Regions from separate parts of the Homo sapiens genome. Here region 1 is linked to region 2. Evidence: fine-mapped expression QTL. A gene starts in region 2. The other region holds a variant in brackets. All regions are shown on one strand. Distances are between the middles of the regions. Region 1 overlaps NCSTN (nicastrin). Region 2 holds the start of ATP1A4 (ATPase Na+/K+ transporting subunit alpha 4).

What was found. PIP is the estimated chance that this variant, and not a neighbour inherited with it, causes the effect. A credible set is the group of variants that fine-mapping cannot tell apart.
Region 1: its variant is the best candidate, but not a certain one, in a credible set for the expression of ATP1A4 in lung (TOPMed, PIP 0.50).

What each region holds. Positions count from the first base shown.
Region 1 is chr1:160,353,565-160,357,953 of GRCh38, forward strand. NCSTN (nicastrin) reads left to right here. Exons shown (of 17, transcript NM_015331.3): 11 at 554-726; 12 at 2,091-2,193; 13 at 2,299-2,394; 14 at 2,696-2,783; 15 at 3,036-3,190; 16 at 3,477-3,689. Among named protein-coding and RNA genes, the nearest start is that of NHLH1, 11 kb to the right of the region's middle. The variant C/T (reference allele first, on the strand shown) is at 1,655.
Region 2 is chr1:160,149,490-160,153,878 of GRCh38, forward strand. ATP1A4 (ATPase Na+/K+ transporting subunit alpha 4) reads left to right here and starts at 2,114. Exons shown (of 22, transcript NM_144699.4): 1 at 2,114-2,698; 2 at 3,676-3,735. The coding sequence starts at 2,552.

The DNA.
Region 1 (4,389 bases), 200 kb after region 2:
CCAAGTCCTGGCTGTGTCACACTCGCTGCCCAACTTGTCCTCCACTTTCCTCATTGCTTGTTCAAAACCTTCCCTTCCCTCTAGGTCCACCTTTAGGCCTGCTTTTTTCCAGGTGGTCCTCTTTCTGCAATTCCAGCCTTCAGCATCATCCCTGCTCTGGACTCCTGTAGCATTTAAAGAATTGGTTATCTGTTTGGCATTCAGCACGCAGTTTTCTATTATTATTTGCTCCCTTCAATTCTGCACAATAAATAATAAGTGAAGCATCCACTGAGGATAAAGCAGAGTCTTGAAGACAGTAGAATTTACTTATAAATATGAAAAAAAAGGTCTCTTCTTTATGCCCCAATTTTCTAACTCTAAAAAGAATGGTGGAAGCTACAGGAAATTCAGAGAGCCTTGGTCCCAAAAGGCTTGAGGGATAAAGGTCTACTAGAGATAGGGTAGCTCCCCAAGCAGGGAACTTGAAGTATAGAGCATTTCAGGCCTAAAAGAGACCTCCTGCTTCCCATCCCCCAGCCTCCCATCAGTTAATCTCCCTCGTACCCCCCAGGTGGAGGATCTCCTGGCCACATTGGAGAAGAGTGGTGCTGGTGTCCCTGCTGTCATCCTCAGGAGGCCAAATCAGTCCCAGCCTCTCCCACCATCTTCCCTGCAGCGATTTCTTCGAGCTCGAAACATCTCTGGCGTTGTTCTGGCTGACCACTCTGGTGCCTTCCATAACAAGTAAGAATCACTTGGCCCTGCACCCTCTTCATTCTTGAAGAGAGTCTATTCTGCAGTCTGGGAGGAAGGTCACTGCCCTCCGCTTTCCCACACTACCCCCTCCAGAACTTCAGGTCCATCTGTATTCTTTGCTCAGTGGCGTTTTCACATCTGAACTGAAACCCTTATTTGTTTGACTGGATATTCATCTTAGAAACTCATCCTCACCCTTAGCCCTTTACTGTCAACAATCCTTGGTTATGGTTCCACTGCTCCCTAGCTCTCCAGGGTCCTGAGTTCCTCAGGGTTGCCAGCAGAGGGCATCATCTCAAACACAAGCATGGGAAGGATGGTGGGGGCCCTTTGGCTAGAAGACAGAAAGCAGTCCTTCTCTGGAACTCACCCAGAGGTGCCAGAAACAGTATTCATACTCTGTGAAATGTACCATGTTCTTGCCATGTGGTAGATGGCCATGGTTCAGTGCGAGGGTAAAAGTGCCTCCTATAGCTGATGGGGCTCCAGAGATACAAAGGGTAACTCTGGGTTACCCTTTAACTGCTCCTAACTTGAGGCCTTGGATAACAGGGGACTTCTTACTCAGGCTGGATTGCCAAGCTTCCCGAGGGCCAAATGAGTTTCGTAGTGAAAATGCTTGAGCTCTATTTCTGACCCCAGCCAAGTAGCACCTTCTCATTCATTTAGGGGAGTGACCGTCCTAGCACTTAGGGTCAGCTGTCTTCTCTAAAGCTATCCTTGTACCACTTTGGGGCAAGTGAAGATTCATCATTTGAACACATTTTGGATTTGATTATGTAGCTGACTTGACTTTGTGTGGGACAGGGATTTACTGATGGTAAAGACTGTGGAGCTCAGCCTCTCTTTTAAGATCTATCTCCTTGGGGCTCCATAAGGATCATCATGGTGATTTTATCAGTGTATTCTTATATAT[C/T]AGTGAGCAGACCTGATCCTAAGACCTGCTAATCACCTCCTGCTCCCAGCTACCCTAAATATAAATGTTCATTGGAACAGTTATACAACTGATCTCATGATACATGGCAGAGTTCTCTGAAAATCATCTTAGCCATCCCCCATATCTCCAGCCCAAATGATGTAGAAGAGTCTCTCCTTTGTTTAAAGATCTGAGCTCATTCAGCTTTTCTACCTTGTCTGTCAGGAAAGTCTTTAATTTTCACTAACCACCTCACCCTCACTCCTACCTCCCTGTTCTCCACACCTTCTGCAATATGGGATCCTGATTGTCTCTCACCCCTTTCTTCTGATGCTGAAAATGAGATACTGAGTCCCTGCATAAGGAGCATTTGAGGGAGGAAAGGGGCAGAGCCCTGGCTAAATGTAGCCAAGGCTCATGCCGGCTTTCCTGGCAGATATTACCAGAGTATTTACGACACTGCTGAGAACATTAATGTGAGCTATCCCGAATGGCTGAGCCCTGAAGAGGACCTGAACTTTGTAACAGACACTGCCAAGGTAGCACTGAGCCAGGCTGGGTGGGAGCCTGGGGCACACAGTGAAGATGCTAGCATTTGAGGATAGGAGAGGTGGGCCATTCAGCCCCCTCCTCACCTACCACAGGCCCTGGCAGATGTGGCCACGGTGCTGGGACGTGCTCTGTATGAGCTTGCAGGAGGAACCAACTTCAGCGACACAGTTCAGGCTGATCCCCAAACGGTAAGCAGATGGGCCCTAGCTCCTTCTTTCTATTTACACAGCAAGCTGTCCCTATCCTCCCTTGCCCTAGTGTCCCAAACCTTGGAATTCCACATGACTGTTGATGCCGGTGAGAATGCCTCATGCCCCAGAGAGCTCTTGGGTGGGCCTCATCTGCATCTTATGAGCCAGCTACTGTCTCCCAACTCCAGTCTATCTGGCCAGTCTGGTTCCTGCCCCATGACTGGGTCTCCACTGATAATTCTTTCCCTGGGCTCCCTTCAAGTCACAGGGTTTTCTCTCTTTACTGTTCCAATCCTAGGTTACCCGCCTGCTCTATGGGTTCCTGATTAAAGCCAACAACTCATGGTTCCAGTCTATCCTCAGGCAGGACCTAAGGTCCTACTTGGGTAAGCATCTGGTGTGGGAATGGGACCCTTAGCTGAGGAAAGGGATAGAGAAAAAGTCTTTTGGTTTAACCTTTATTATTTTTTTTCTTTTTCCTCTCTGTTTTTCTTACCCCCTGTTTTCCTTTCTTTCTTCTCATATTTGATGGATCCTTTTCCATTGCCCTTCTTTCTGGCTGCTGCCAATCTTGGGCTTTTCCTATTTCACCCACCATCCACCCACCAAATCTTCCCTTCCCTTTGGTCTGCACTCAGGTGACGGGCCTCTTCAACATTACATCGCTGTCTCCAGCCCCACCAACACCACTTATGTTGTACAGTATGCCTTGGCAAATTTGACTGGCACAGTGGTCAACCTCACCCGAGAGCAGTGCCAGGATCCAAGTAAAGTCCCAAGTGAAAACAAGGATGTGAGTGGTGGTGGGTGTTGGAAGTGCCCTGGGGCCCCTTTCCCTTGGGAAAGTTGGAGGTTCTTCTAGACCTAGTTAGACCCAGGGGATTGGGATGGAGAGGTGGAGAGATGCAGTCCTCAGCAATTGGGTGTTGAAAAGCCTGGGTGAAAATGGACCATCTGAAGGGTAAAGGGACAGCAGCCAGTTAGCTCAATTGGTTAGAGCATGGCACTGATAGAGGGTAGAGGGAACGAGTGAGAAGAGGATCACCCTAGCCGTGTGTTGTGGCGCATCTTCTGTGCAGCTGTATGAGTACTCATGGGTCCAGGGCCCTTTGCATTCTAATGAGACGGACCGACTCCCCCGGTGTGTGCGTTCTACTGCACGATTAGCCAGGGCCTTGTCTCCTGCCTTTGAACTGAGTCAGTGGAGCTCTACTGAATACTCTACATGGACTGAGAGCCGCTGGAAAGATATCCGTGCCCGGATATTTCTCATCGCCAGCAAAGAGCTTGAGGTGAGATGGGGCAGGGGCATAGGTGGCAGGGATCTGTTTGACTTCTTTCTCTGCTTTCTTGTGTCATATAGCCCTTTCCATCTCCCATTTGCCCCACATTTGTAGCAAAAGCCTACTGCAAATCTGTCCCTGGTCAGCCAGCATGTTCCCTTAGGAGGCCTTTTTTTTGAGATGGAGTTTCATTCTTGTTGCTCAAGCTGGAGTGCAATGGCACAATCTCAGCTTACTGCAACCTCCGTCCCTTGGGTTTAAGCAGTTCTCCTGCCTCAGCCTTTCGAGTAGCTGGGATTACAGGCATGTGTCACCACACCCAGCTAATTTTTTTTTATTTTTAGTAGAGATGGGTTTCACCATGTTGGTCAGGCTAGTCTTAAACTCCTGACCTCAGGTGATCCACCTTTCTTGGCCTCCCAAAGTGCTGGGATTATAGGCGTGAGCCACTGCACCCGGCCAGGAGGCCTTTCTTCACAGATAGTTTGAGTAGGTGTTCATTCTGGAGAGCCCCTGTGGATCCCAGAACTCTTTCACAGCTTCAACTCCCGGCTGGCATTCCCCATCTGGCACAGCTGGGATGAGTCAGTCTAATGTACCGAGCTCCTGTCACAAGTCAGTAATGTAAGTGCCGCAAGGGAACCAAAGCCATGGGCCCTCCTTTCAAAATGCCTAAAATCTAAGTAATACAAGATGGAAGCAAGAACAG
Region 2 (4,389 bases):
GGTTAAAAAAATGGAAAATATCTCATAAATCCATCAGTAATGGGAATGATTGAATAGAGCATGGTCAATACAGAATATGGAAGCCTCACAGCACTGAAAAAAAGAAGCTTTATGTACATGACAGGTTGGTAGAGAGTTGAATGATTGTTTAAAAGTTGAAAAATACCTCCTTTTAGATATCTATTTGTATAAACATAGAAAAAAGACTGGAAGGACATGCAGCACATTGTTACCAGCAGTAACTTCAGCAGTGGGGAGAATCTGAGTTTGGAGGGAGGGAAGGTGGGGCTTTCAATTTTTATCTTAAACATTTTTAATAGAGAAGAAAAATCCAATCTGTTAAAGAAATAGACGATCATTTATCCCAGCTGGGAAGGGAGCATTTCTATTTCTGAATATTCAAGGAGGATTGCATCAGCACCAAGATGAATGTTTCCAGATACAGTCATATTTTTAAAAAGCATGCCCAACCAAAATGCAATTAAATAAATATCAGGCCAGGCTTGGTGTCTCACTTATGTAATCCCAACATTTTAGGAGGCCAAGGCCAAGGATTGCTTGAGCCCAGGAGTTTGAGACCAGCCTGGGCAACACAGGGGCACCCCGTCTTTACTAAAATAAAATAAAAAAAATTAGCCGGGCATGGTGGCACATGCCTGTGGTCCCAGCTACTTGGGAGGCTGAGGTGGGAGGATCACTTGGACCTGGGAGGTTGAGGCTGGAGTAAGCCATAATCGCACCATTACACTCCAGCCTGGGCAACAAAGTGAGATCCTGTCTCAAAAAGTAAATAAACAAATATCAAACAACAGAATGGGAAAATCTATGTGACGTGCATAATTGAAAAATATATATAATGGTTGACAGAAAAGTATAGATGCTTCAGATTATTCTTGGAAGGAGGTAGAATCCTATGGACATGCAAAACATATATACAGTTAATATAGTCAAAGCACTTACTGAGACACCAGAGAAGGTCAATGGAAGAGGTAAGTACATCATTTTAAAATGAGAAAATGCAACGCTATCACATGGAAAAGCATATTTTTACCCTCACTGAGAAGAGCTGCATATTAATCCACAAATAAAACTACTACTGAATTCAAGCTACCTATTGAGCACATACTATATATGTCACATAGTGCTTTTTGTAGAGCACCTCACTTAAGGTAGAAGGTATCCTCTTTTAAAAATAAGAAAAGAGAGGTACAGAGGTTAGGTAACTTGCTCAAAGCCACACAGCTGACAAGTGGAGGAGTTGGGATTGAAATCCAGGACTGGTTCCAGAGCCCAAGATCTGATCTATTCTGCTAGCTGATCTCCTAAAATTAAAAGATCAAACCCAATGTTAGTGGAAAAGTGTGCCTTGCTAAAAAACACACACAGAGTACCTGCTTTTTTTTTTTTTTTGAGATGGAGTCTCAAAAACAGACGGGAGAATATTAGTCCAAACTGCAACTGCACCATTTTGTAAGCTCCCTGCTATGGTTTTTTGTTTGTTTGTTTGTTTGTTTGTTTGTTTGTTTGTTTGTCTGAGATGGAGTCACTCTGTCACCGAGGCTGGAGTGCAGTGATGCAATCTCAATTCACTGCAACCTCTGCCTTCTGGATTCAGATGTTTCTCCTGCCTCAGCCTCCCGAGCAGCTGGGATTACAGGTGCCCACCACCACACCTGGCTAAATTTTGTATTTTTAGTAGAGATGGGGTTTCACCATACTGGCCACGAAGGTCTCGATCTCAGCCTCCCAAAGTGCTGGGATTACAGGCATGAGCCACCGCGCCCGGCCGAATACCCGCTTTATTTTTGAGTCATCTATTTGGCATACCTCTAAGCCTCCAAAGTCTGCAGGACCACACAAGAACTTTGTTCTAGTTCTGCCCTCAGACTGAAACTCTTTCTGTAGCAGGGCCTGCTCCAATCGTCCTCAAACCCAAAGACTGAGACTTCTAGGTTCTTGGTTAAAACCTTCATGAGGCCTTTGCGACAGCAGACCTGGACCATCGCCAAGGCAAGACTTCTGGATTCTTGGTTAGAACTTTCAGGAGGCCTTTGTGATGCCAGACCTGGGTCATTGCCCCAGCAACCACAGGGCCTGGGACTGGGGGGTTCCCAGATCCTTGAAGCTCACTCCGCCTCCTCACTCTCACTGCATTTCCCACCTTCCTGTGGGCCTTGCGGCATCTTCATCACTGAGGCACCTGGTTACGCTTCACCTCTTGTTTCCTGCCCTCACTGCATTCCCTCACCTCTACCTTTTTATCCTTCCACCCTAGGCTTCTCTCCTCCCTCTTCCCTCACTCCTGACTCTTCCTCTTCCCAGCGGACGGCTGGAGGACCGCTCAGTCTCTCCTCTCTCACTTCCCTTCCTCTCTCTCACCTTCACCACCCAACACCTCCCTCCCTGCCTCTTTCTTTCTGCTCCCTCATTCTCTCCCCACCACTCTCTTCTCGTGGCCCCCTTGCCCGCGCGCCCTCTTCCCTTCCCCTTGCCTCACTCTCTCAGCTTTCTTCCCACAGTTGAGCTCGGGCAGCTCTTTCTGGGGATAGCTATGGGGCTTTGGGGGAAGAAAGGGACAGTGGCTCCCCATGACCAGAGTCCAAGACGAAGACCTAAAAAAGGGCTTATCAAGAAAAAAATGGTGAAGAGGGAAAAACAGAAGCGCAATATGGAGGAACTGAAGAAGGAAGTGGTCATGGTGAGGCCACCCAAAGTGGGCGCTGACAGCTGCCCTCTGAAAACACTCCTCCACCTATCTTTAACATCTTACCTTGAGAATGAAACACACAGGCCAGAGCCACATCTCTTCTCTGTTAGGCTTTGGAGGGAAGGAGAGGGTTAAAAAAAAAAAAAAAGATACACACAGAGAGACAGGGCAGCTCAACAGCAAGCACAGGTATATTGCAGACACCTGTGGAAGTGGGGGATCAGCTTAATTCCACAGTCCACTGCCACTTACAGGCTGGGTACTTATAGGGATGGATGGGAGGAGTCTGGGCTGTATGGCCTGCTGCCTGGCAGGATATCGATAAGATGTTCTCATGATGAGGTGATTTTTGGCCCTTGTTTCCACAGAATATAATCATGGTATTCCCTGGACCTTTGCCCAGCAGGATGTGATAGGGATGTTTCTTTAGTGGGGTCTTTGTCTTTAATTGGGCCTTCGTCTGCCCTGTGGTCAGGTGGTTAGGCAGGCTGTTTCTCTGGCCCGAACCCCCGTGAAATGTTTCACTTTGACCAAGGCCTGTAAAATAGTGGGGAGCTAGGCCGGGCGTGGTGGCTCACACCTGTAATCCCAGCACTTTGGGAGGCTGAGGCAGGCAGATCACCTGAGGTCAGGAGTTTGAGACAAGCCTGGCCAACATGGTGAAACCCCGCCTCTAAAAATACAAAAATTAGCTGGTCCTGGTGATGGGCCCCTGTAATCCCAGCTGCTTGGGAGGCTGAGGCAGGAGAAACACCTGTTGGGAGGCAGAGGTTGCAGTGAGTCGAAATCGCACCACTGTACACCAGCCTGGGCAACAGAGTGACTCCATCTCAAAAAAAGAATTGCAGGGAGCTTACAAAATGGAGCAGTCTCAGTTTGGACTAACATTCTCCAGTCTGTTTCTCCCCCTCTCCCTGGAAATGACCTGGGCCACCCCCTGTCCCTCAATGCCTCTACTGTCCCCTCAGGATGATCACAAATTAACCTTGGAAGAGCTGAGCACCAAGTACTCCGTGGACCTGACAAAGGTGAGTAAGAAGCTCCCTGAGGAGGCAGAGAGTCTCCAACTCTGACTGTGAGGCTGCCAGGACAAAAGCTGAACTAGGAATCCAGCCCCCTAACTTCAAGTCCAACGTTCCCACCCCTCACCCTCTGCCTGGCCACGTTCCATGGACACTACCTGGAAAAAGCTGCAAATGGTAACTACCCTCAAAGAGAGTGTGGGACTAGATAAGAGAATAAGAATGCTTTAGGGCAGTGCTGGTCAAACGTCTTGTCCTTAGGTCTCCTTTACACTCTTAGAATTTATCTAGGACCGCAAAGAACTTGTGCTTATGTGGCTTAAGTCTGTCTATATTTACCATATTAGAAATTAAAATTGAGAGTTTTAAAATGTATTTCTCAATTCATTTAAAAATAACAAAAATAAAGTTATCATATATTCATATATGTTTTGACAAATAACTGTATTTTTCAAAACAAAAAAATTAGCAGCATCTTACATTTTTGCAAACCTCTTCAATGTCTTGCTTTTTAATAGAAGATAGCTGGATTCTCAAATATTTTCTGGATAAAATCTGTTGTGATGTTATGCCAGTTGGCCTTCAGAAAATTCCACTATATACTCTTAAGAAAATGAGAGTAAAAAAAGGCAAACAATGATTTAGTATTACTATGAAAAT